4 linked regions of the Homo sapiens genome follow. The protein of the gene in region 3 interacts with the protein of the main gene of each other region in a pairwise test. Each region holds a gene or a part of one and is shown on either strand. Other genes may lie near its edges. The genes, in order: GPATCH2L, SLBP, ZNF473 and DHX57.

What was found.
Region 1: the proteins of ZNF473 (region 3) and GPATCH2L interact in binary tests that used the Homo sapiens proteins (3 or more experiments, as listed by UniProt).
Region 2: the proteins of ZNF473 (region 3) and SLBP interact in a two-hybrid assay, tested with the Homo sapiens proteins (one study listed by BioGRID).
Region 4: the proteins of ZNF473 (region 3) and DHX57 interact in binary tests that used the Homo sapiens proteins (3 or more experiments, as listed by UniProt).

The regions. Positions count from the first base shown.
Region 1 is NC_000014.9:76,154,903-76,161,928, forward strand, and holds part of GPATCH2L (G patch domain-containing protein 2-like), read left to right. Parts: coding exon 1-123; intron 124-7,026.
Region 2 is NC_000004.12:1,702,300-1,709,325, forward strand, and holds part of SLBP (histone RNA hairpin-binding protein), read right to left. Parts: intron 1,402-7,026; coding exon 1,297-1,401; intron 1-1,296. UniProt on the Homo sapiens protein: RNA-binding protein involved in the histone pre-mRNA processing.
Region 3 is NC_000019.10:50,021,535-50,029,005, reverse strand, and holds the start of ZNF473 (zinc finger protein 473), read right to left. Parts: upstream 3,002-7,471; 5' UTR 2,884-3,001; intron 1-2,883. UniProt on the Homo sapiens protein: Involved in histone 3'-end pre-mRNA processing by associating with U7 snRNP and interacting with SLBP/pre-mRNA complex. Increases histone 3'-end pre-mRNA processing but has no effect on U7 snRNP levels, when overexpressed.
Region 4 is NC_000002.12:38,865,928-38,872,953, reverse strand, and holds part of DHX57 (putative ATP-dependent RNA helicase DHX57), read left to right. Parts: intron 1-4,542; 5' UTR 4,543-4,548; coding exon 4,549-4,772; intron 4,773-5,721; exon of another isoform or gene 5,722-5,845; intron 5,846-7,026. UniProt on the Homo sapiens protein: Probable ATP-binding RNA helicase.

The sequences.
Region 1 (7,026 bases), on a different chromosome or scaffold from region 3:
AGGCCACGGATTGTGTGAATCAGCAGAAAATAGGACTTTCCTAAGCAAAACAGGAAGGAAAGAAAGGATGGAGTGTGAAACAGATGAACAAAAACAGGGCTCTGATGAGAACATGTCAGAATGGTGAGATCTCCCTTACTAAGTCAAAGATTTTCCTGGTTAATTTTTCCCAAAGTGCACATCCATGGTCTTAGTGGGTTCTACCTTCTTTCAAACCAGCCACTCTAGTATTGACTTTGAAGCCTTCCTTGAATCAATCAGTAGTTTAGCTTTTTAAGGTACCATTCATGAGTCTATTTCCCTCTGTCAGGAAGGCTATATGTAATAGAAACACAGTTGTTTCTAAAAACTGTTTAAAACGCGTACCTCAAATGCAAAACTAATAATTTTATTTTAAAAAACAATTTGCTGCTTATTATGCCATACAGTTTATACATAAATATTGTTGTTTAGAACTCAGGTCTCAGCAGAGGCTGGTGTGTGTGTGTGAGAGAGAATATGCTAGCGCCAGGTATACGGAGTTTATAAATGTTCCATTAAGTTGCCTGTCCTCATTAAGAATCATGGCTTTAGATGCTTTTTGGCTATAATTCTGTTTTCTGCTACTTGTGGTTTGATTATATTGAATTTATTTTTTTATGGCTGACATTCAAATTGTCTGAACACATGGTGGGCTTTGAAAATAACAGTACCGAGTCCCATTAGTCTTACATCAGATGTGATCAAGCCAGAAAAATTTGTCTCTAATGGGTACATGTTTAAAAATGTAAGTGTAGTTTTGGTGACTTTTTATTTTTTACATCTCAGATAGTCCTAGGAACATTGATACCCCCCAGCTTGATACTTTAATGTTATTAATATTAATCTGTGGTTATCTTTTTCTTAATAGTGAGGATGCCATTGGTGTTTTGGATGGGACAATTCTTTATGGTGCATTGCAGAATATTTAGCATCTCTGCATTATTCACACCCCCTTTTCATTGTATCAACCCAAAGGCCTCCAGGGGTGATCCCTAGGTGGATTGAGTACTCCCAGTTGAGAACCAGTGTATTCTATTATTGTTAATATTAGTTGGCATTTATTAAGCACTCAACTATGGGCCAGGCACTGTACTATGGACTTAGCATATACTCTTATTTAATGTTCACAATTCCACTATATGGTGGATACCACTATTTGTATTTACAGAAGGGAAGTTGAGGTTATAAGAGCTTAGATAATTTGCCTAAGATCACCCAGTGCCAAAACTGGGAATCAAGCCTGATTCCAAAGCTCATTCTTAACCACCATGTTGTGCTGCCCTTTGAGTTGTTCTGTCTCAATTTAACTTTCCCAACTGTAGAACATATGACCTTTCTGAAGTTTAGCTTAAAAACAAAGACATTAATCTTAGGAACACTGAGGTGAGGCTGTGTCAGTAACAGGAAAAACTGTTTAGGTCTGTATACCTGTACCTTTCTTGAGTGGTTTTTAATCCAGCTTTTAAACTTTTTCTTATTAACTTTATATTTGCCAGTCTGCAGACTATATTGAGATAGGCTCATAATTTGACTTTCCTAATTTTCCTCTAATGCCTCATTCCTTCTAAGGTCTATTTGCAGAATTTATATGTATATATTTGGATTATAAAGGTATTTTTCCCTCATCAGACTATTTTTAATCAAACAAGAAATGCTTAGTCAACTTGTAGCCTTTCACACTATTGAAACCCTCTATTGAGACATTCAAGTTTGTTTTAATATTGAGCATATATACCAAATAGAAGTCTTCTTAGTATTGAGAATGGTGATTTTAAAAGTAGCCTTTTGGGATAGTAGCTTTGTGTATGTTTCTTCCCCTTAATTTCTTGTTAAACTACGACATAATTGTATGTGAGAGAGCGACTGTTAACTCTGTCTGCTCTAACAGCCCAAGTATGGCTCCAGATGCAGAGCCTGTTTTCTAGCATGAGATGCTTCACTCTTTTCTGTTCCTTCTTACTCCAGACACATCTATTGCACATTCTAGTCAGGATGTAATAATGTAAATTCTCGTTATCTGAGAGTCTGGATAACTTAAGTGGATGGGAATTCTTATGAAATTCTTACTCTTTTCAAATTGAGGAGAACTCATTCACCCATTTGGGCTATTATCCTGGCCCCTCACTTCAGAGTTCTTTCAATATGTAGATGCTAAAGGGTTGTAGCTGTGAAGGAATAATGGGCGGAGTGGTGGCACACACGGCATTGAGGAAAGTTCTTTAAAATCTTCTAGTTATTTAGGAGTTCTAAATTCCCCTTGACTTGTCTCGATTCATTTGTAGTTACAAACAGAAGTGCTTTGTATTTTTTCCCCCTGAATCCATTCTGTGGGGAAAGGGGGTGATTCTTACTCTTTGACTGAATGTTGTGTTCAGCCTCTCTTCAAGAGGAGAGTGGAACTAAAATCTCCCTTAATTGTTAGGCACACCTTTAAAAAGGGCTGGCATTAGAGTGTAAGGAGATAATAGTATATGATTTGGATATTATACTGTCTTGATGAGTTGATTCTGTCAATAATTTTCTACTTTATTTTTTCCCTGCATTTTTAAAAGAAATACTTTCAAGAATCTTCTTGGTTACCCTTTCATAAATCTACTTGGATGTGCCACTGTTTATTCACATACAGATCAAAATGTAGAATTTTACTTTTTAGCAGTGGTATTGAGGGTTGTCAGAGTAATGATCCACATTGTAAGATTATTAAGATGAAGTTGATTGTTAAGCTTAGCTTAGCCTAGTCAATGGTAGCGTTTTTTTTTTCTAAAGCATGTATTAGATGTTTTAGATTTGAAAATGTGTGTCTCAATCAGCTTATTTCTAATTTCCTTAAACTCACTCTTTGCGACCTAAACATGGAGTATAGACTTCATCAATATTTGTTTGCTTTTCTGTTTCTGGTCTTCCTTTAATATTACACCAGCCAATCCCTCACAAGTTTTGAGGAACTAAAAATGGTTATAGTATAGTAGTTTTTTTCTGCTTGCATAGAGATCAAACTATTATTTTAATATTTTTCTGTGTATGTGTGTTTGTGAGTATTCTAAAGCAGAACAACTACTGTAAAATTATTTTCTACTGATCTTTATTTAAATTGTCTGTATAGCAACTATTAATAGCTATTAGCTATTAGGTGACTGTAGCCTAATTTTGCTCTATTCTTTACTAACACATCATTTGTTTGTTCCCCTTGAATATAGTTTAGCTTCTTTTTTTTTTCATAAGTGAATTGGTTGGGTGATGGCCAGAGGTCACATTCAGGAGCCTTCCTAAGGTGATGTATTAGAGGCTGATCTCACAGGAAAGAAAATATTCTCCTCTCTTGGAAGGCAAGTGACAGAGATAGAGTGCTAAACCTACCCACTCCTTCTCCAGCCCAGGCTGACCTTCTGCGGCCCTTTGGTGCCTCTTGTTTTCTTATTTTTATAGAAAATCAATATCCCTTCTGATACAAACAATAGCTCAGAAGCAAGAATAAGTGGGAGAAAGCTGAGATCTCTGTCCATCACCTCTCACTTTAACTCCCCCAAACTCTTTAATTATGAGTGTGCTTTGCTCCAGGTGTTTGTGACAGTGAAATTGCTAAATGAGGACCATTTTAACCAAAGATTGGGTGATCAATAACACTCTATAGCAGTAGCTTGTTGGATCAATAGCATTCATTATTTCATGGTTAAGGTAAGTAGCCTCCTTTGCAAGTGGAGGTCATTAATCAGGGTTTCCTGGAGCTGTGTAAAAGAATATGTATGGTAGGTGGGGGTGTTCTGTTTTCTATTCTGTAAGTAGGGATGCTGACCAAGAATATATTTACCATTGTTGCAGTTGGTAGTATTGCATGTGAGATTCTCGAATAGCTAGCATAGTGTGCTTATGTGGGTATATTCACAGTTCTGCTAGTATCCTTAGGGACAACTAAAACACACAGCTTGGGAGGTCGATATGATACTATTGTACTTGAAGGTCTATCTCTTGAAAGAAACATCCATCTCGTAAAAGAGTCTACCTCTTAAAAGAAATATTGGGATTGTTCTGTGTGGCTCCACAGGACAGAACTCAGGGATAGAGAGTACAGAGTGTTAAATGTTGCTGCGGTTAAAAAATAAGATTCTAAAAATTAGGACTCTGTAAAAATGAAGTGAATTGTTTCACCATGTAATGCGTAATAACTTCTAGATCAGGTGGGGGGATTCAAACATGGGCTTGATGACCGCTTACTTAGTTGCTGTGGAGTTGAGAAGGTTGAACTGAAGGCTTCTGAGATCCCTTGTAACACTGAGATGCTGCGATTCTTTTCAGTCACAGTCTACTTCCCACCATTGTAATGTCTTAACTGGTAAGTAGCCTCAACTGCCCACTTGAATTCTTGTGGTTCCCACTGGCAGTCATCTTCAAAGATTCATTCTTTCTCTCAACTTTTAGAATGATATTCCCTTTTCTCTTATTTCGCAGAATTTGTTCAAAGGCCTCTTGGTATTTGCCAGCAAGGGTGCATAGATTACCCTTGGTCCCCTTCTCTACTCCCGTGGACATAGGTAACTGCCATTCTCAGATCTACAGCTGGCCAAGAGAATATGCAGAGCCCCTAGCCCAGTGCTCCCAGTGCTACTGGGAGGCTTTTATCTCATACAGCTATGCTGGACTGAGATAGGATCATCTAACCCTCACTGCTTGATTCTGACCCCATTCCAGGAGTGTGCCGTAAATGAAGGTGTAGAAAACACTGCAGTCTCCAGAATGTACTGTCTCCAGAATGCACTTCTCTGCCCATGTCAACTGGAATCTTTGTTCTTGAAGACTATACTTTCTAGGACTCAATACCCTATAACTGCTTCCTACCCTCAAACACAAATACACACAGAAAACACTAAGCTTCCCTATCCAAGTGTATTCTGGGAGTTAGAGCCACCAAATAGAAACTGAAAGATACTCAGGCCGGGCGTGGTGGCTCACGCCTGTAATCCCGGCACTTTGGGAGGCCGAGGCAGGTGGATCACAAGGTTAGGAGATCGAGACCATCCTGGCTAACATGGTGAAACCCCGACTCTACTAAAAATACAAAAAAATTAGCCTTGGCGTGGTGGTGGACGCCTGTAGTCCCAGCTACTCAGGAGGCTGAGGCGGGAGAATGGTGTGAACCCGGGAGGCGGAGCTTGCAGTGAGCCGAGATCACACCACTGCACTTGAGTGCACTCGAGCCTGGGCGACAGAGCGAGACTCTGTCTCAAAAAAAAAGAAAAAAGAAACTGAATGATGCTCAATGGGAAGAGAAGGATAGAACCACACCCTGCCTCAACCTGTAGCTGCCTGATTTTCTGACTGAAACTGGCCTTGCATTTCTGAACTGCAAGGTGACTGTAGAGAAAGGATGCAGGGGCTTGCTATCTACCTTCAGGGCAGGCTCAGCACTTCTAACGTGGGCCTCCATTTCATTGTCAAGTGTGGTTCTATCAGCCTTGTAGTTTGAGGAAATCTTGGCAATAGGCCATCTGTATTCTCTATTGCTACAGAAAAAAATCGCCCTAAAACTTAGTAGCTCTAAACAAAGAGACCAAGTCTGTGAGTATGTAAATATTCCCAGGGAAGAAACCAAAGTGCTGGAGAAGAAGATACAACTGAAGAGAAAAAAGTGTTCTTGAGTTGAAAAATTAAGTCTTAAGATTAAAAGCGAAAATTAATGAGAAGAGACTTCTACTGAGACGGAGATTTTAAAAAAATATTTTATTTTAGTTTTTCTTTTTTTCACATATGCTCAAGACTAAGGAAAGAAAAATCTTAAAAGGGGTTGAAGACTGGGTGCAGTGGCTCAGACATTCTTAGATATGCAGGCCCCAGAATCCATGTTCTTTAAAAATTTACTGTGAGAAGACGTTCCATCTACCTGAAGATGAATCACTGTTAGCTCTAAGAAAAGGGAAGTCTTGAAAGGATGGGTGGACTTCTCTGAGGCACAGCCCCCAGCTCAATAGCAGAGTCCTGAGGAAAATTCTGTCTCTGCAAAGTATACCTGATTGTACTAGTCACAGTATCGAACCTGTCAACCTGCGGAGGTTGCTGCCTTTCATGGCACTGTCTGAATGAAACTGAAAAAGAAATTCTTTTATTATATATTCTCATTACTTATAGGAATAATTTCAGAACTGATGTGAGATATTTCTCTGAATAACCTCTCCCTCAGTCTTGTTTACTACTAGATTCAGAAGTCTGATTACAAAGGGTTACCAGTGTGCCACCTCTACCCTGGAAAAAAACTGGAAAACGATAGAACAAAAATACCTTTGGGCAGTAGATCTAAGAGTGACTTTTTTCCACGTTTTTCTAAATTCTGAAACAACTTTTATTTTTGTTAAGTGCATTATTATTTACTAAGAAAAGTTTTTTAGAATGACGATGTAAGCCATAAACTTTAAGATATCTATTAATTAGATGCAAAAAACACCTCTTATTAAGCTACTTGGTTAATAAGCTCTTAAATGGGGAGAAACAAACCCAGATGGTAATTTATTAATACCAACTTTTGATTGTAGGTGATAAAGTAATTCTGTACCTCCTTATTATAATTGGAACAGGTATAAGTTACTCTTTCAGTTCTCACTTTACAGTCTTCTGTGGTTAGGAGTATGAAAGAATTAGCAAGCTCTCAGATCAGAGGGTGTGCTGTGCTTTTTTCCCACCCCCTGCTCCCCCTGGCAATTTTGGGAATTCAGAGGGGTTTATTTTGTTGAAACTAGAAGCTACTGTTTAGGAAGAAGGGAATTAATTTCAACAAAGAGTTTATAAAGATTCTGTATTATCTGTTGCTGCAGAAAAAATTGCCCTAAAACTTACTAGCTCTAGGACGGGTGCGGTGGCTCATGCCTGTAATCCTAGCACTTTGGGAGGCCTAGGCGGGTGGATCACCTAAGATCAGGAGTTTGAGACCAGCCTGACCAATGTGGTGAAACCTTGTTTCTACTAAAAATATGAAAATTAGCCAGGCGTGGTAGCACAGGCCTGTAATCCTAGCTACTT
Region 2 (7,026 bases), on a different chromosome or scaffold from region 3:
TCTTCTACCAAGGCATACATCCACCCACACATTTTGATACCAGAAGAAATGACAAATAACTCCCCCAAATGTTCAATAACCAATTCCCACATATTCCCGTCCCTTTTCAAAGGAGGCTGATATAAATACCATCACTGGCTGCCAAAATGAAAACAGGTAGTCTAGGTATCGTTCCGCGGCTGACACGCAAGACACATTTTTCTTGAGACCCTGTTTATCAGCCACTTGTTGGCTAAAATTATCTTGTAAAATACTTCAACCAATTATGAGCCACATTTTAACTGGGTTTGAATAAACCCAGTCCTTGCAACTGGGTTTGAGTTAGACAACTCATCAAAAGAGAAAGGATCAACACACTGATAATCAAGGGAGATTAAACATGGTTAAGGATGCATTAGGTAATGAGTCAACGAAGACGAAGTAGCTTAGTTTGCAAGAACTTGGATACACACAACAATCTTGTGTGCAACTGCAAGAGGTTCACAGAATCCAAGTTTGAGACCTTTCCTTGTATGTTGGCATTTCTGAGCTGTTTGTTGCCTAAGCCAAGTGTCAATGTATTCCTTCATCTGGAGAGAGCACTCCATCTACTGTGCTGGGTTGTGTGAGCACCGCACACAGAAGGTCGGTGGTAACAAATGACTATAGTAAGTTCCTGATAGTTAGGCCGGGCACAGTGACTCATGCCTGTAATCCCAGCACTTTGGGAGGCCGAGGTGGGCGGATCAGGAGTTCAAGACCAGCCTGACAAACATAGTGAAACCCCATCTCTACAAAAAATACAAAAATTAGCCAGGCGTGGTGGCCTGTGCCTGTAATCTCAGCTACTCAGGAGGCTGAGGCAAGAGAATCGCTTGAACCCGGGAGGCAGAGGTTGCAGTGAGCCGAGATCTTGTCACTGTACTCCAGCCCGGGCAACAGAGCGAGACTGTCTCAAAAAAAAAAAAAAAAAAAGAAAGTTAGTTCTGATAGTCCTCCAGCCTGCAATCCAGCAGTAACACCATTGTGCACCTACTTCCACTCTTGGAAGGATTACCACCAAGAGGACAGTGGTCTTCAAGCTTGAAAGAGTGGACCCGCCTGGAGGGCTTTTCACAGGATGGCCAGGCCCCACCCCATTCGCAGGCCCAGGGAAGGGTCTGAGAATCTGTATTTCTAACAAGTTCCCAGGAAATGTTGATGCCTTTGGTCTGGAGCCCAGACCTTTGAAAACCACTGTTCTAAGACAAATATCAAATTTAATGTGTTACTGAAAACGCCACAGATTAACACTTCAAGGTGGTCCAAAATGTGTACCTTGCCATTTCTTTGTTAACTCTGGTCCTCATTTCATCTTCTTCAACTGCACTTGCCCAGTCAGAGCATCTGGAACGGGGTTTAGGGCCTTCAGGAGTGGTAAAGCTGCAATAAAAGGAAAATGCTACTGAACCATGACACATACTTTGTTTTCTTTCAAACTGTATGTCAAGAAATATTCAAAGGCTGGTGGGACACAGTGGCTTGTGCCTGTAATACCAGCACTTTGGAAACTGAGGTAGGAGGATCACTTGAACCCAGGAGTTCAAGACCAGCATGGGCAAGATAGTGAGACCTCATCTCTGTCCCCCACCCAAAAAAATAAAAGCATTATATCAGTGAACTATGTGTATCAAACCATACTAAACTGGAGTTTAGCAGGACAAAAGCAAACTAGATGTAGAACATAACCTATCAGCTGCATCTGTCTATCCAGGGCTGTCTTACTAGAGCAGAAGTCATGGAGCTCCTTGGCAGTGTGCCCACTGTGTTTGGGGGTCTAATAAAACCAACTAGATTTTAGACTTCAAACTAAATTATGATTCCTTTTGGGTGTCCACACTTCAGTAGTCCAGGGCTATCATATGGCTGAAATCAACTTATTTCGTTCATCTCTGGTATGTGTTTATAAAGTCATTAAGATGGGAGATTTGCTTCAAATTTTTGCAGTGTGTGTGGCAGTCAGAAAAACCCATATCTAGTTTTCAGCTTCAGTTCTGGCATTTCTATGGGTTAACCTTATCTCATTGATCCAACATCCGGCCTGATGCTGGAGCTTATGAAGTTGACTCTAAGAAGTTCAGAGAGTGTAGAGTTTCCCATCTTGTATTTAATTTGTCTCTATGCCATTAGTCCCAGCTTGAAGTCATTACCAATGTCAATGTTGACAGGATTGTGACAATATTGCCTTTCATAAAACCGACCACCAAAGAATTCCATTATTCTAACAAAGCCCGAGTTTCACAGATCGCGGGCACATCTAGACAGATGTGTGCATGCTTGACGGTGCAGAGCAACTACTCACTTCCAGCAACCTCGTGCTTCCCCTGGCTGGCCATACAGAGGGATTCGCTGTCATACTGAGAAGGCTCTGCAAGGTAAGTCTCTAATTGAGGCTATCTCAGGTGGGTGTTTCCGCTGTGTAGTCCCAAGCCTGTATCCATATAATAAAAGTGCAGGTCTGGCATTCCTCCAGGTTATCTGGCCAGTGTAGACTCCTCCATCTGAATATGAACCTCCAGGGTAAGAATTTTCCAGACATGTCTATACTAAACAGTATGATCCTGTACTTGCCAAATGTCTGCCTCCTCCTGTTCTGCACTGACCCATTCTTTTTTTTTTTTCTTTTTGAGACGGAGTCTCACTCTTGTTGCCAAGACTGCAGTGCAATGGCATGATCTCAGCTCACTGCAACCTCTGCCTCCCAGGTTCAAGCGATTCTCCTGCCTCAGCCTCCCGAGTAGCTGAAATTACAGGCATGAGCCACCACGTCCAGCTAATTTTGTATTTTTAATACAGGCTGAGTTTCTCCATGTTGGCCAGGCTGGTCTCGAACTCCTGACCTCAGGTGATCCACCTGCCTCGGCCTCCCAAAGTACTGGGATTATAGCTGTGAGCCACCGTACCCAGACTGCACTGACCCATCCTAATTCCTGTTAAGTGTGAGAAGAATTGTCTTCTGTTCTCTCTCCATTCTCATTCATGATGAGATTACTGATCCATTAACCAGTTGAGAAATGACTGATGCTGAAGAAATGGTATTCTATTGGCAAGGCTTATTAACAAACTTCTGATAATGAAGCAGGCTACCAAAAACTTATCCAGCCCACCCCAGGAGTGTTTGGATTTGATCATGGATGTAGCACACACCAAAATCACTAAGACTTTAGACTACTTGTTTTATTTTGTCAGATTATCATGGGACTGTCTTTAGTTCTGAATTATCTGTAAGTCTGAGTACTTCATAGAATTATAAAGCAGGTACAGCTGACACCTTCTCACCATGTTGTAAATATTTACTGAGACTGGGTACAGTACTGAGGGATGATAATCTTCTGATTTATCCAATGCTGACTGTCTACAGCAAATTGTCCACTCTGCAAATGGTCCTGTAACGTGTATGAATGTATTTCTGGGTGCCTTAGAAGTTGTCTTTTTCATGTGTGCTAATATGCAGTATTTATACATTGTGAGAAGTTGATTTTAATAAAAAGGTTGGAACGTCATCTCCAAAATAAATAAATACCCAAGCATGGTGGGGCGTGCCTGTAGTCCCAGCTACACAGGAGGCCCAGGCAGGAGGATCACTCTAGCCCAGGAGGTCAAGGCTGTGTGAGCCATGATCCTGGCACTGCACTCCAGTCTGGGCAACAGGGCAAGACCATATCTCAAAAAAATATATATGGTGGCAGAGGACAGTGGCTCATACTTGTAATCCCAGCACTTTGGGGACGCCGAGGCGGGTGGATGACCCAAGGTAAGGAGTTTGAGACCAGCCTGGCTAACATGGCGAAACCCCATCTCTAATAAAAATACAAAAATTAGCCAGGTGCAGTGGTGCGCACCAGTAGGCCCCAGCTACTAGGGAGGCTGAGGCAGGAGAACTGCTTGAACCCCAGAGACGGAGGTTGCAGTGAGCCGAAATTGCACCACTGCTCCTCCAGCCTCAGCAAGAGACTCCGTCTCAGAAAATAAATAAAATACAGAATAGCTAGCATATCCATTTACCTTTCGGGCGCATGTAATTAATAATTCAGAATGTTATGTACACTATGATTACAATGTGTATGGAGGAGTATATGTCAGAGTCCTTGCTGTGTCAGGACTCCGTCTACTGGCAAAGTACCCCCTGTGCTTGAGTTAAACCACATCCAGGAGCTCAGTTCCATCTCAAGTTCAAGATAGTCTTCAGTCAATATTGGGAAATTTATGGCCAGGCAGTGGCTCACTCCTGTAATCCTAGCACCTCGGGAGGCTGAGGCTGGCAGACTGCCTGGGCTCAGGAGTTCCAGACCAGCCAGGGCAACATGGTGAAACCCAGCGTCTACCAAAATACAAAAACTTGGCTAGGCGTGGCAGCGCGTGTCTGTAATCCCAGCTACTAGGGAGGCTGAGGCAGGAGAATCCCTTGGACCCAGGAGGTGGAAGTTGCAGTGATCCACCAGGCGGAGTTGCAGTGAGCCGAGATCGTGCACTGCACTCCAGCCTGGGGGAGAGAGACCCCGTCTCAAAAAATAAATGAATAAATAAATAATAGTCCGGGCGTGGTGGCTCACACCTGTAATCCCAGCACTTTGGGAGGCCGAGGTAGGTAGATCACCTGAGGTCAAGAGTTCAAGACCAGGCCGGGCGCAGTGGCTCACGCCTGTAATCCCAGCACTTTGGGAGGCCGAGGCGGGTGGATCATGAGGTCAGGAGATCGAGACCATCCTGGCTAACAAGGTGAAACCCCGTCTCTACTAAAAATACAAAAAATTAGCCGGGCGCGGTGGCGGGCGCCTGTAGTCCCAGCTACTGGGGAGGCTGAGGCAGGAGAATGGCGTGAACCCGGGAAGCGGAGCTTGCAGTGAGCCGAGATTGCGCCACTGCAGTCCGCAGTCCGGCCTGGGCGACAGAGCGAGACTCCGTCTCAAAAAAAAAAAAAAAAAAAAAAAAAAAAAAAAAAAAAAAAAAAAAAAAAAAAAAAAAAAAAAAAAAAAAAAAGAGTTCAAGACCAGCCTGGCTAACATGGTGAAACGCTGTCTCTACTAAAAATACAAAAATCAGCTGGGTGTGGTGGTGGGTGCCTATAATCCCAGCTACTCGGGAGGCTAAGGCAGGAGAATCACTTGAACCTGGGAGGTGGAGGTTGCACTCCAGCCTGGGCAACAGAACGAGATTCCATCTAAAAAAAATAATAATTAAAATTTAAAAAATAATAATCAGGAAATCCAAAAGCTTAAGGCTTCGAGCCCCAAATTCTGGCAGTTCAAATTGATGTATCTTATTTATACATCAGACATAAACTCACATTTTTATTTTTCTACCCCATTTTTCTGTTGATCACTACTGACATTAAAACTAGATACTGGGCCGGGTGCACAGGCTCATGCCTGTGACCCCAGCACTTTAGAAGGCTGAGGCGGGCGGATCACAAGATCGGGAGTTTGAGACCAGCCTGGCCAACATGATGAAACCCTGCCTCTACTAAAAATACAAAAATTAGGATAGGCATAGTGGCTCACACCTGTAATCCCAGCACTTTGGGAGGCTAAAGCAGGCTGATCACTAAGTCAGGAGTTCGAGACTAGCCTGACAAACATGGTGAAATCTAGTCTCTACTAAAAATACAAAAATTAGCCAGGCGTGGTGGTGCGCACCTGTAATCTCAGCTACTCAGGAGGCTGAGGCAGGAGAATTGCTTGAACCCGGGAGGCAGAGGTTGCAGTGAGCTGAGATCGCGCCACTGCACTCCAGCCTGGGCGACAGAGCAAGACTCTATCTCAAAAACGAAAAAAAAAAAAAAAAAATCAGGCGGGCGTGGTGGCGCATGCCTGTAGTCCCAGCTACTTGGAGGCTGAAGCAGGAGAACTGCTTGAACTTGGAAGGCAGAGGTTACAGTGAGGTGAGATCACACCACTGAACTCCAGCCTGGTTGACAGTTATGCCCCGTCACAAAAAAATACACTAGATACTAACTTTAATTACAACAAATAAGCAACCTATTTTAGCTGTAAACCAAATGCTGTGCTTTGAAAATGCAATTGCAGTAACAAATGAATAATCCTCTTATGTAATTATCATTTCTTCCCTTACAGTCACACAACTCAGATAAACTTAAATTGGATTTCTAAAAGTAAATTTCCAGATTCTAAAAATGGTAGAAAGTTATGAAATCAAATTAGGTAATTAACTGAAAATTAAATTGACTCAATAGAGGTTTGTCCAGGATTGGATACAAGCATCCTCACTAGTGTATCAAGAGGTTCAAGTCTGGGTCTGCCAACATAACAAATTCCTGAACTACAAGAATAATTTAAAGCCTGTGTATGTGAATGACCATATACTACATGCCATATTTTGGTATCTTTAAGTCCATTTCTTAGATTAAGTAGGTTATATTCATAATCTACCCTATCTTGGGACAACAAAGCCTAATTTTACACACTAAGCTAACAACCTTCCAAAGAGTACTTCTAGATCTTATCCATCAACGAGCTGGCTCTATTTGTCAGGTGCCTCCAGGCATTATCCACAATGTGCAAATACCAAGTGCAAAGGCCCTAGGACAGAAGCATTCCTATAGTTTGAGGAATGAGGACACCAAAAACTTCCATAACTTCTAAAGCACTGTAAGGATTTAATATTTTTATCTTCAGCTAAATGAGACCACTGGAGAGTTCAGAGCTTGATCTCAATAAGGTTTGTTTACCTTCCCTTCATATCTGGACCTAGGGCCTCTTCTGTACCCACCCGTAGACCCAAGTCTTTTGTCTTTTTTTTTTTTTTGAGACAGTTTCACTCTTATTGCCCAGGCTGGAAGGCAATGGCGTGATCTCGGCTCACCGCAACCTCCACCTCCTGGGTTCAAGGGATTCTCCTGCCTCAACCTCCCGAGTAGCTGGGATTACAGGCATGCGCCACCATGCCCGACTAATTTTGTATTTTTAGTAGAGATGGGGTGTTGGGAAAAAGGCTTATCGAGTGCCTGTATAAGCTGGCCATAAAAATATGGCACAGTAAGTTGTGAAA
Region 3 (7,471 bases):
AGGTAAGGCACGGACACTAAATTTATGAAAAAAAATTTGTTGTTCTGAGTTGTCCAGATTTTTGAGACTACAAATATGGGAATATGGTAGACCTACAATAAATGCTAATTCTACTGAACAATGAGTTTTTCTACATGTCAGAGGTTAAGCCTCAACCTACGAGTATAACTCAGTTGACAGATATTTGGCCCATAATGTTTGTTGGCAGACAGAATGTTTTGAAAGAAAATTCAAGCATGGCTCACTAGTCTCAAACTTGAAAATTGGGAAATTTCACCTAAAAATTATGTTTCCAACTTCTGAAACATCCTAGGATTTGGCAACATTGGGTCTACATCCCACGAAGTTAGTTCACTGGTGCCCATTTAAAGCTCCCCCACCAGTGCTAGGCAAGTGGGGGATGCTTATAATCCCAGCACTTTGGGAGGCTGAAAGGTGTTCGAGACCAGCCTGGGCAACGTAACAAGACCTTGTTTCTAAAAAAAAAAAATTAAAAATGAGCAAGTTGTGGTGGCACGTGCCTGTAGTCCCAACTACTTGGGAGACTGAGGTAGGAGGATCGCTTGGGAGGCTGAGGTAGGAGGATCACTTGAGCCCAGGAGTTCAAGGCTGCAGTGAGCTATGATTGTGTCACTGTACTCCAGCCTGAATGACAGAGAAAGATCCTGCCTCCAAAAAAAAATTAAATTTGTTTTTTTTTTTTTTTTTGAGACGGAGTCTCGTTCTGTCGCCCAGGCTGGAGTGCAGTGGCGCGATCTCAGCTCGCTGCAAGCTCTGCCTCCCGGGCTCATGCCATTCTCCTGCCTCAGCCTCCTGAGTAGCTGGGACTACAAGCGCCTGCCACCACGCCCGGAGAATTTTTTGTATTTTTAGTAGAGACGGAGTTTCACCGTGTTAGCCAGGATGGTCTCGATCTCCTGACCTCGTGATCCACCCACCTCGGCCTTCCAAAGTGCTGGGATTACAGGCATGAGCCACCACACCCGGCCAAAAAAATTAAATTTAAGTTTAAAAAGCGGCTGGGTGCAGTGGCTCATGCCTGCCATCCCAGCACTTTGGGAGGCCAAGGCAGGCGGATCACCTGAAGTTTGGAGTCCAAGACCAGCCTGATCAACATGGTGAAACCCCCGTATCTACCAAAAATACAGAAATTAGCCAGGCATGGTGGTGCACGCCTGTAATTCCAGCTGCTTGGGAGGCTGAGGCAGGAGAATCGCTTCAACCGGGGAGGTGGAGGTTCCAGTGAGACCGAACTCCAGCCTGGGTGACAGAGCGAGACTCTGTCATCAAAAAAAAAACACAATTCTCCCCTTCAGATGAGGCAAGTGCTCCCCAAGGCCCCGCAGCCTCACCTGGACCAGTTCTCTTCTTTCCTGTATGTCATCTGCCTGGCCCTCACAGACAGCTGAGCTTGAGATCCCTGTCTGCAGTTACCAAATCACATTCTGCCCACATCTCATATACTCTCAGCTCTGGGAGGAAAGAAACGAGGGCCCAGAGGTGGAGCCCAAGGTCATCCAGCCCAGAGTGACTTAAGCCAAACAATTATCAGGCTGAGAGACCTTGGGCCCAAGAGTCTTGCCCTTCCTTCCAGACCATTTACCTTCTCTAAGCCTTAGTTTCCACATGTACCAAATGGAACAAATACAACAGATCTATGGTCCTTTAAATGCTCCAAAAACCAGAACTTGATTTATAAACTGACCGCAAAACTTCACCTGGATTGCCACAGGCCATGTAGGGTCTTAATGTTCTCATAAGTGTGAATATTCACACCTTGCCCCACAGAAACATTTTATGACCAAAAACTGGCCCAGATTCCTCGGGGTGTGGGGGGGTGCTGCCTAATTATAAAATATGCACCCTATTAGCTTTCTAAAATCTGAAAAATTCTGATTCCCGAGATTGCCTTGGTGCCAAGGGGACCTGCACTTATGTCTCAGTGCTGCTGCGGGGATCAGAAGAGGAAATGCAACTCCAGCAGGGCGCCTGGCACACAGAAAGCACTCAAATACTGTAAATGTTAAGTACTTCAACTTCCCGAAGAACTCCCATCCATCGTCCAGCAAGATTCTGCCTAAATTTGCCAACTTCAGGTAACTCATTCCCCTCCTTCCCCAACCAAAACCAAAATAAAACAGAACCACTCCTCTCAGGGCCATCAGGGAGGCCTGGAAACCCCTTTAGCAGTTTTCTTTTCTTTTCTTTTCTTTCTCAGCTCACTGCAACCTCTGCCTCCTGGGTTCAAGCAATCCTCCCACCTCGGCCTCCCAATTAGCTAGGAATACAGGGGCGCACCACCACGCCCGGCTAATTTTTCTATTTTTTTCTTCTTTTGTGGAGACAGGGCTTCACCATCTGGCCCAGGCTAGCCTCGAAATCCTGGGCTCAAGCGATCCGCCCACCTCAGCCTCCCAAGGTGGTTTTCTTCCTTTCTTTTTTTTTTTTTTTTTTTAAGATGTAGTCTCGCTCTGTCACCCAGGCTGGAGTGCAATGGCGCGATCTCGGCTCACTGCAACCTCCAGCTCCTGGGTTCAAGCGATTCTCCTGCCTCAGCCTCCTGAGTAGCTGGGATTACAGGCCCCCGCCACCACGCTCAACTAATTTTTGTATTTTTAGTAGAGACTGGGGGTTCGAGGAACTCCTGGCTGTAAGTGATCCCCCCCGCCAAGGCTTCCCAAAGTGCTGGGATTACAGGCGTGATCTACCGTGCCCAGACCTTGAGCGGTTTTCATAACAGACTGTGAAAGACGGTTCACACCTTCACCCTGACAACCGCCGCCCAAGGCGACGCACCCTTTGCCGAAGTCGCCCCCACTTGCATTCCGTCACCTCTCAGGAAGGACCGAGCCCGCAAGTCCCTCAGCCCCAGCGTCTCCGTACCTCGGGATTGTAGTCGGCCGCGTCAACAGACGCAACCCCAGCCTCAAGGGAGCGGGAGATTCAACTCCCCGCACACGCGCCTCCTCGCAGCGACTTCCTGTGCGCGAGAAGCTTCTCTGAGCGGCTGCACCCAGGATCCTCCGCGGCAGCGCCAGGACTCTATTTCCCAGAGGGCTGTGCGGGCGACTTCTTTCGCCTTCCCATCTCCTCCTGCTTCTTCAGCCTTAGCACTGTGGGAGTAGAGTAGAAAGAGAATCAGGACCAGGCGGCATCAGTTTGTAGTCCAGATTTTTACCTTGTTAAAGAATCATCTAATTAGCTTCTTGCCTTTACTAGAAGTCAGGGAGTGTTAACCTTTTCCGAAGAGCAAGCGGTAGGTTGCCATGGAAACGCGTTGTGACGGGTTTCTGAGAAAACAAGCGGAAGTAAGGGGCGGAGTTGAGGCAGAAGTTTAGGTAATGTGACCTCTGATTGGTGGAGAGGTACCTCACGGTGCATTCCGATTGGTCTGACACTGACACATGCGCAGTAGAACCAGAAGGCGTTCCAAAGCGGCTAGAACGGAGGGGAGGGGGATGAGCAATGAGGGAATAATCCCCATTCCGTCTGGAATCAGAGGGCGGGCCTGCCGCGGAGGCATCTGGGAAACGGAGTTCCCAGGCAGGCGAAGCCCAGGGGCCGTCAGGAAGTCAGCGGCGCCTGCGCGGGCGCCTCAGATTCAGGATGCGCGCGCAGCGCTCTCCGCCCAGCGGAAGTTTTCGCTGGGCAACTGAGAAGGTGAGTCCGGGTAACTGCGGAGGATCCGAGGGTCAGGCTGCAGAAGCCCAGAATCCCACCCCAGTCCCCAAGTACAGAGGTGAGGGGAAGCGAGGCGAACGAGGGGACGTCCCCCGACCCCCTAGCCGCAGCTCGGCCGGGGCGTCCGTGACGTCAGCACGACCGTTTGTGGGAGGCGGAGGCCCCTGCTGTCGGGGTTCGGAATGAGAGCGGCTCCGGGTCGCGGGGTTCACTGGCCTCCTCTTGAGCTTCCCAAGCCACCTTGGGCTCCGTGTTGGGCATGGCTAAGGCGGAGATGGGCGGAACTTGTGGGAAGTTCGACAGCTCCTCCGCTGTGAAACTTGGCGTCTAAGTCATCCCGTGGTTTCTATGGAGGTGCGGCCGAAGGGAGGCTCTGTCGTCGCCTAGGCAATCGCCCCACCTGCGCTGAGGTGGGGTCTGACTTTTAGCCTTTTTGCTGTGCTGTTTCCTGAACTTTCTAGGAGGAACACTATACAGTAGTTGACGCATAGCAGCTGTTCCCTAAACATTTGTTGAATAAGTCAAATAAATTAAGATAAAGACTGGCCTGAGGGTTGGAGTCTTAGGGTTTCAAGTCCTGACCTGGCCATTGCATAGGTGACTTCAGCACATCCAATTTTATTGAGCGTTTACTATATGGAAGGCTCCGTGCAACCGATATTACACTACTATAACCTGGGTTTGAACGGTGCTAGTCTAATAGGCACTGTTCAAGCCCAGGTTATTATAGCAGTGTCTAAAACAAAAATCCTGCCCAGCTAATTCACATTCTCAGGGTGGTTGGGGATGCCAGACACTAAAAAAGAAATGTTAAAGAATATTTACAGGTCTGCAGTCCCTTATCTATAACTTTAAAATCCAAAACGTTCTGAAAACTGAAAGGTCTTTTTCTCTGTTTTGCAACTTACTTGGCAGGCCAACCTCACCTGGCTTTGAACTTGTTTGCTGGCAATACCCACTCTGAACTGATGTGTGACTATTTAGAATTTTTAAAGATTTTGTTGTGCAAATCATATACTTATGGAGAGTTGCCCCTGGATCTCGCCGGTGTTGTAATATGTAATAGGTTCTAAAATCCAAAAAATTTGGCTGGGCACGGTGGCTCCCGCCTGTAGTCCCAGCACTTTAGGAGACCGAGGTGGGCGGATCACCTGGGTTCAGGAGTTCGAGACCAGCCTGGCCAACATGGTGAAACCCCATCTCTACTAAAAATAAAAAAATTAGCCGGGCATGGTGGCATGCGCCTGTAATCCCAGCTACTCGGGAGGTTGAGGCAGGGAGAATCGCTTGAACCCAGGAAGCGGAGGTTGCAAGTGAGCTGAGGTCGTGCCACTGCTCTCCAACCTGGGTGACATAGCAAAACTCTGTCCATCATGCAATACATGGCAGAAGCAAGATCCAAACCCAGGCAGATTATTTCCCAAGTTTATCCTCTTAACCCCTGTACTGATCTGCTTCTAAGTGGCACGTCTTTTTTAGGGACCATCCAGCTAGATAATTCCGGCCCTGAGCTTTGAGTCTCTGGCTGGATGTCTAGATTTGCCTGAGAGATGAATGTGTACTGACACAGCTGGGGACCCCCCCCACCCACCTTCTTGGCACATTTTCTTTTGCAAAGGAGACAATGATTTATTCACTCAGCAGACGTAGACCCAGCATTTGCTCTGTGCCAGGCCTGTTTGAGGCTCTGGGCACACTGTGGCAAACAAGGCAGGGAAAAGTCCCCGCCATCATGAAGCTTACATTCTAGTAAGTCAGAGTATGTCAGGTAGTGACAAGCACTGTGAAGAAAAATAAAGCAAGGTAAGGAGGATAAAACATGCTATTAGTAAAATGGTGTCCAGGGCCAGGCACGGTGGCTCGAGCCTGTAATCCCAGGACTTTGGGAGGCTGAGGGGGATCACCTGAGGTCAGGAGTTTAAGACCAGCCTGGCCAACATGGTGAAACCCCATCTCTACTAAAAATATAAAATTAGCCAGGCGTGGTGACACGCATCTGTAATCCCAACTACATGGGAGGCTGAGGCAGGAGAATCACTTGAACTCGGGAGGCAGAGTTTGCAGTAAGCCGAGATCGTGCCATTGCACTCCAGCCTGGGCGAAAAGAGCCAAACTCCATCTCAAAAAAAAGAAAAGAAAAAACACAGTAAAATCGTGTCCAAGAAGGTCTCTGAGAAGGTGACATTTGAACAGAGAGCTAAAGAATGTGATGAGGAAGTTAACTGTGTGCACTCTTAGGGGGACAGCGTTCCAGGCAGATGGGAGAGCAGGTGCAAAGGTCTTGGGGAAGAAACGTTCTTGTCACGATTGGGGAAAAGCACCGAAGCTGTTGTGGCTGACTCAGCGTGAGCAAGGGGAGAGGTGGGAGAGGTCAGAGAGGGAACAGGGAAGTGGCAGATCATACAGGGGGCTCCTGGGCCATGGTAGGAATTTCAGCATTTATTCTGTCTAAAATGAAATCCACCATACGGTTTTGAGTAGAGGAGGGACAGGGTCTGACTTACATTTTATTTATTTATTTGTTTATTTATGAGACTGAGTCTTGCTCTGTTGCCCAGGCTGGAGTGCAGCGGTGCAATCTTGGCTCATTGCAACCTCTGCCTCCCAGGTTCAAGCGACTCTTGCGCCTCAGCCTCCCAAGTAGCTGGGATTACGGGTGCCCACCACCACGCCCGGCTGATTTTTTTTTTTGTACTTTTTTAGTAGAGACGGGGTTTCACCATGTTGTCCAGGCTGGTCTGGAACTCCTAACCTCACGTGATCCGCCCACCTCGGCCTCCCAAAGTGCTGGGATCACAGGCGTGAGCCACCGTGTCCGACCCACCATATGGGCCAGGGCAGGGACACAGACAGGGTCTGACTTAGATTTTAAGTGGATCCGTCAAGCTACTGGGTTGAAAATAGATTGTAGGGACAAGCGTAGAAGCCGAAAGTCTAGTTAGGAGGCTGCTGCAGTAGCACAAGGGAGAGATGGTGGCCTAGACCAGGCTGGTGACGGTGTCAGAACCGGGGGTGGCACATGGTTAAAAGACTCTCTTGCCGTGGTTCCACACCCAACATCAGCTTCCAGATTTAAATCTACAAGAATGTTCTGACCTGCTGCCCCAAGAACCCAGTCCGGTTTTGCGTTTTCGTTGTATAAATTGGCACCAGGTGAAGAACATGGGCTTTTGGGTTCTGGATTTCAGCTGCGTCCCCACTGTTTTCTAGGTGAGTGGAGTCAGGTCTGGGGGAAGGAGAATTGTCACCCTTTGAGCATCATTTTGTAGGTTTCAAAGATGGGATAATCATCCCTACCTCATAGAGTGGAGGGAAAGATTAAACAAAATCATGTGTCTGGCTCGCCGCTTAAGAGGTTTGTGGCCCTGGGCAAGTCATTTGCTCTCTGAGCCTCTGCTTCTCATCTCCCCAAAGGGGAAATCATTCTTACCTTGAAAAGGGTGATTGGGAAGGTTCTGTAGATAATACCTGCCGAGAACTTAGCACAGTGGTCTGCACATACTGAACTGTCATGAAATGAGAACCGTCTTAAGTGAGTGACTTGACCTCTCTGTGCAGCAGGGACTCCCTGTCCCGGTTACTATGTCTAGAGAACAAATCGTCCCACAATTCACTGGTGTAGAACCACCATTTCTTGTGCCCATGGATCCTATGGGCCAGGAATTCAGAGTGAGCACAGTGAGGTGGCCTGTTTCTGCTCCCCAGTGCCTGTGCCTTAGCAGGAAGACTTGAAGGCTGGGGTTTAAGTGGTCTGAGGACTTGCCCACTCACCCAGCAGCTGATGGTGGCT
Region 4 (7,026 bases), on a different chromosome or scaffold from region 3:
CCTGGAAAATGTTTCATGTGTACTTCAGAAGTATGTATAGTTCGTTGTTGGGTGGAGTGTTCTATAGACACCTATTAGGTCTAGTTGGTTAGAGTGTTGTTCAAGTCTTTTATTTCCTTGTTGATCCTCTGTCTAGTTGTTCTACCATTAAAAGTGAGGTACTGTAGTCTCCTACTATTATTATTGAATTGTCTAATTCTCCCTTCATTTCTGTCAGTTGTTGCTTTGTGTATTTTGGTGCCTTATTATTAGGTACATATGTGTTTTTAATTGTTATCATTTCCTGGCAGATTAACCCTTTTATCATTAAGAAATATCCCTATCTCTAGTAATATTTTTTGCTTTAAAGTCTGTTTTGTAAGCTATTAACATAGCCACTCCACCTTTCTTGTAGTTGCTGTTTGCAAGATCATCTTTTTCCATCCTTTTACTTTTCATTTATTGTGTCTTTGAATTTAAAGTGCCTCTCCTGCAGACAGAATATATTTGGATCCTGTTTGTTAATCAAGTCTGACAATCTCTGTCTTTTGATTGGACTGCTTTATTCTCTCACATTTATTTTTATTGTCTATATACTGAGAATTACATCTAACTCTATTCTACTTTTGGATGTCTGTATTTCTCAATGTCTATTTTTTCTTCTGTTCTTACTTTATGCTTTCATTTGCATTTAGTCATTAAGTGAATATTTTCTAATGTAGTATTTTTGTGATTGCTTTGGGGTTTATGAACAACTTCAGATTTATATTAGCTTAATTCCAGCAATATTGCTATGGTTTGAATGTTTACCCCCAAAGTTCATGTATTAGACATTTAATTTCCAATGCAACAGTGTTAGGAGATGGGGCCTAATAACAGGTAATTCGATCATGAGGGCAGAGCCCTTATTAATGGTTTAATGTCACTAGCATGGGAGTGGGTTAGTTATAGCAAGAATGAGTTATTAGGCCGGGCGCGGTGGCTCACGCCTGTAATCCCAGCACTTTGGGAGGCCGAGGCAGGCGGATCACAAGGTCAAGAGATCGAGACCATCCTGGCTAACATGGTGAAACCCTGTCTCTACTAAAAATACAAAAAAACAAAAACTTAGCCGGCGGCGGTCACCTGTAGTCCCGGCTACTCCAGAGGCTGAGGTGGAAGAATGGCATGAACCAGGGAGGCAGACCTTGCAGTAAGCTGAGACCACGCTACTGCACTCCAGCTGGGGCAACAGAGTGAGACTGTCTCAAAAAAAAAAAAAAAAGAATGAGTTATTATAAAATAAGTCTGGCAGCTGGTACCTCTCTCTGTATCGTGCCCACTTCTGCCTTCCATCTTCCACCATGAGATGACACTACGCAGATGCCAGCATCATGCTCTTGGACTTCCCAGCCTCCATTACCATGAGACAAATAAACTTCTGTTGTTTATAAATTACCTAGTCTGTGGCATTCTGTTATAGCAGAAAACAGACTAAGACAGATACATAGAAGTATTACTTTTATATAGCTCTATTCCTTTCCTCCTTTTTATAGTATTGTTATACATATTATATCTATTAATGTTATATACCCAACTATACTTGTTACAAGTATTACTTTACTGTCTGTAGTCATTTTCTCAGCACAGCACAATTACGCTCCCACCAATCTTCTTTGTGCTGTTATTGGCAAATATATTACATACATATTACCTTCTTGTAGGTGACATGCCCAACATTATATCATATACATATTATTTTATATAACTGCTTTTTAAATCATTTCAGAGAAAAGAAGAGACAATACTTTTGTACTGGTTTTCAAATAAATAAATGTCCAATATAAATGTGGATTTTTAAAAATAATTACTCAATTACCTTTACTAGTACTCTTTGTTTTTTCATGTAGATTTAAATTACCATCCAGGGATACTTGCCTCAACTTGAAGAACTGTTAGTATTTCTTGTGAGGCGGGTCTATTGACAACAAATTCTCTCAGTTTTGTTTGTCTGAGAAAGTTTTCATTTTACCTTCATTTTTGAAAGATAGCTTTTCTGGATTTTTGGTTAACTATTTTTTGTTGTTTTTTTTTTGTTTTTTGTTTTTTGTTTTTTTGAGATGGAGTCTCACTCTGTCACCCAGGCTGGAGTGCAGTGGCGCAATCTCGGCTCACTGCATCTTCTGTCTCCCATGTTCAAGTGATTCTCCTGCCTCAGCCTCCGAAGCAGCTGGGACTACAGGTGTGTGCCACCACACCCAGCTAATTTTTTGTATTTTTAGTAGAGACAGGGTTTCACTGTGTTAGCCAAGATGGTCTCGATCTCCTGACCTCGTGATCTGCCCGCCTTGGCCTCCCATAGTGCTGGAATTACAGGCATGAGCCACCACGCCCAGCCCTATTTTTTTCTTTGAGTATTTTAAATATATATGTCATTACCTTCTGCCCTCCATTGTTTCTGTGAAGAAATCAGTCATTAATTTTATTGGGGTTCCCCCCTGTAAGTGATAAGTTGTTTTTCTCTTACTCCTTTCATGATTTTCTCTTTGTCTTTTGACCTTCAACATTTTTATTGCAACATGTCTATTTTGTGCATCTCTGTGTTTATTTTCTAATAGTTGGAGGCCATTGAGCTTCCTGCATGTAGAGGTTATTGATTTTTAATGAATCAGAGAAGTTTTCTACCATTATTTCTTTGAATATTTTTTCTGCTCTTTTCTTTCTTTCCTTTCCTTCTGGTATTCTCATTATATGTATATGGTACCCTTGATGGTGTCCCACATTTTTCCAAGGCTCTGTTCACTTTTCTTCATTTATCGTTCTCTCTGTTTTCAGCTTGCATAATCAATGTCAGTCTGTCTTCAAGTTCATCAGTTCTTTCTCTTGCTAGTTCATGTTTATGGTTGAGCTTCTCTAGTGAATTTTTAATTTCAATTAGTATACTTTTCAACTCCAGAATTCCCATTTGGTTCTTTTTATATATATAATTTTTTATCTCTTTATTGATGTTCTCAATTTGATATGACATTGTCATCATACCTTCCTTTACTGCTTTAATTGTGCATTCCTTTATTTCTGTGAACATACTTATAATGACTATTTTGAACTCCTTTTCTGTTAAATCTGACATCTGTTCTCACTCATAGGCAGTTTGTGCTTTTTCTCTCCAGTGTATGGGTTATACTTAAGTGTTTCTTTGCATGCCTTGTGACTTTTTTGTTGTTAACTGAACATTTTGGATAACATACTGTAACAACTCTGGGTACTGATTCTCCCCTTTCAGGGGCTTCTTATTGTTATTTGCTGGTTTAATTTTTAGTGACTGGCTAGAATATTTTAGTGAAGTCTATTTCCCTCCTACGATTTTAAGCCTCTGTTGTTGCTCCTCTGGGAGGTACAGCTTTAGGTATGCCCATGGTTGATTGCTGAATTGTTTTCAACAATGCTCTGGAGAGTAAATTCCTTTACAAACTAATCCAACCAAAGTATGGCTTCTTTGAAGCAATAGTTTCTGAGATCCCAGTTTAATACTCATTCTAATCCCAAAAAGGAACTTCCTAGTGATCTTATTCCTTGGTTTGCTTCCTGCAAACTAGTTGGCCAACAGTCTAAACTACATCTTCATTTAATCCTGTAATCTCCCTTTCCCCACAACCTCACTATTCTTGAAAGCACCTTTAGGTTTGAACTTCTCCACACTCCATTGTAAATGGAGTCAGTCCTTTGGAAAAAGATTAGGAGCTATCTGTCTTACGGCCTACTTCCCTTTTGCCCTTGGCAGAATCTCTGAGCCCAAGCTGTGTTCCTGATAGAGCATATATAAATTTAAATTTTGTCAAAACATATATTAAATACATGAAAACTTCTCAACTGGATTTTTAAAATCCTATGCTAGGCTGGGTGCAGTGGCTCACACCTGTAATCCAAGCACTTTGGGATGCTGAGGTGCGCAGATCACTTGAGGTCATGAGTTCGAGACCAGCCTGGCCAACATGGTGAAATCCCATCTCTACTAAAAATACAAATATTAGCTGGGCGTGGTGGCAGGCGCCTGTAGTCCCAGCTACTCCAGAGGCTGAGGTAGGAGAATTGCTTGAACCCAGGAGGCAGAGGTTGCAGTGAGCTGAGATCATCCGGCCTGGGCGACAGAGCAAGACTCCATCTCTAAATAAATAAATAAATAAATAAATAAAACTCTAAATTAGACCTAACCAAATGAGAATCTAGGATTAAAGCCTAGACATGTGTATTTTGACACTTCTCCATGTGTTTATGATGTACATCTTTAGTTTAGAAATCTGTATCAGAGACATTCACTAAATATTAGTCCTGAGGTAGAAGTGCTTATAAATCTTTTGTGAAGATTTATCCATACTATCCCTAAACTGGCTGGCTCTTTTTATTTTGTAGTTTTAAAATTTTTTCACTGGAACAGATTCAGAATCCTGCCCCAAGACCAGCTCTTTTTACATATGCATTTTCCTTTGTTTCTTTAAAGTAGCCTATATTCATAAGTTTGGCAAACAAAGGATTATCATACATGTCTGGTTTTATGATGTCTACATTAATTTTTTTCTCTTGCAGGTGAAAATGAGTTCTTCAGTAAGAAGAAAAGGCAAGCCAGGCAAAGGAGGTGGAAAAGGGTCTTCTAGAGGAGGAAGAGGAGGCAGGAGTCACGCCAGTAAATCTCATGGGAGTGGTGGCGGTGGCGGTGGTGGTGGTGGTGGAGGTGGCGGCAACAGAAAGGCCTCCAGTAGAATATGGGATGATGGAGATGACTTTTGTATCTTCAGTGAATCAAGGCGCCCTTCCAGGTCATTATAACTCTTTGAATGTTTAAATATGGAAATGGTATCAACCCCTAATGTATGGGACAACAGATGGCTGAGAATGGAAAAAAAGTCGAGTAATTCTGGTCAAATTGTCTTCCTCTTTGTAACCCTTTTCTGAAGACATGATGGGAAATAACAGCTTTTGTGTGTATGTAGGTTGCATGACACTGTGAATTGAGTGTAATACTGCTATTATACCCAGTGTTACTAGGAAAGTAAATACAGAAATAGTGTGATGAAAATTATTTTAAGTATTCCTTATGCATCATAGACTGATGTTAAAATGATGATGTTAACATTGAACATGGACAGGTACGGTGGCTCACACCTGTAATCCCATCACTTTGGGAGGCCCAGGTGTGTGGATCGCTTGAGGTCAGGAGTTCGAGACCAGCCTGGCCAATAGGGTGAAATCCTGTCTCTACTAAAATACAAAAATTAGCCAGGCATGGTGGCAGTCACCTGTAATCCCAGGTACTAGGGAGGCTGAGGCAGGAGAATTGCTTGAACCCAGGAGGCAGAAGTTGCAGTGAGCTGAGATCACACCACTGCACTCCAGCCTGGGTGACAGAGTGAGACTCCATCTCAAAAAACAAACATTGAACAGCCTAAAGTGCAACATGACTGTACTGTGTCTTTCTAGTTGATGAGCTGTGTATTTTCCAGCCAAATCAGCCATCATCTGATGGTGTTACATGTGGTGACCAGTAACAGATGCCTTATCTAGGTTTCTCTCCTGTTCAACTTTTAACTAATGAATAAATTATGGGAATTCTAGTAATTCTAATGAGTATTTAATAAAAGTAAATGTTTTGCTATTGCATGTTATACAGTATAACTACAATTAGGCATCACTTAGTGACAGAGATGTGTTCTGAAAAATGCATTGTTAGGCAATTTCATTGTTGTGCAAACATCATAGAATGTACTTACACAACCCCAGATGGTACAACCTACAACACACCTAGGCTGTATGATGTAGCCAATTGCTCCTAGACTACAAATCTATACAGCATGTTGCTGTACTGAATACTCTAAGCAATTATAACACAATGGTAAGTATTTGTGTATCTAAACATGTCTAGTTGTAGAAAAGGTATAGTAAAAATAGAGTATAAGAGATTAAAAATGATACCTATGTAGGGCACTTACCGTGAATGGAAGTTGCAGGACTGGATTTTGCTCTGGGTGAGTCAGTGAGGAAGTGGTGAGTGAATGTGAAGGCCTAGGGATATTACTGTACACTACTATAGACTTTATAAATAGCAAGCAGCATAGTCTCTCTATGTTGCCCAGGCTGGTCTTGAACTCCTGGGCTCAAGCGATTCTCCTGCCTTGGCCTCCCATAGTGTTGGAATTACAGGCGTGAGCCACTGTGCCTAGCCAAGAACCTAACTTCTGAGTTAGCTGCAGCTCCATAGTTTTTCAAAACATGGACATTATAGGTTCTTGGAGTCCGTAGATGTTCATTCATTTGGTAAGTATTTACTGAATGCCTACCATGCACCAGGCACTGTTTTAGGGACTTGGAATTGCAGCAGGGAGTAAAATATTGTCCTTATCTAGATAGAATGGGATTTGAGATAGAAAAACCATAAACAAATGTATAACATTACCAGGTGCCGCATGCTATGGAGAGAAATAAAGGAGTGTAACAGGGATATAAAATACCAAAATAGAATTGTTAATTTATGTAGAAAGCCCCCCTAATAAGGTATCACGTGAAGAGAGGCAAGAAGTAAGTAAAGGAATAAGCTGTGAAGTTCTGAGTACAGCATTCAAGGCAGAGGGAAGAGCAATTTCTTAAGGCAAGAATGTGCTTGGAAGGTTTAGGAAATAGCAAAGAACCATGTGGCTAGAATGAGTGGGCAAGAAGGCAAGTGGTAGGCAATTAGATCAGAAAGACCAGACTGTATAGGACTTCATGGGCCATTATTAGGACTTTGGCTTTTACATGAAGTAAGACAGAAGGCCTTTGGAGGGTTTGAGGCAAGGGTGTGTGATATTATCAGTCAGTCTGGCCAGAGTTGTTTCTATTCAGTGTATGCCTTTATGTGAATTAGAAAATGGTGCTCCTTCCTTTGGACAGTTATAGCCCCACACCAGGATCATGGCTTAGCCAGCAGAACATGGACCGGATTTTGCTGTCCCTTCCTCCCTCTTCTTCCCTCCCAGCCAGGAACCTTTGTGCAGTGTACAGTCTATGAATCTATACTCAATAGCATTGACTGGGTGT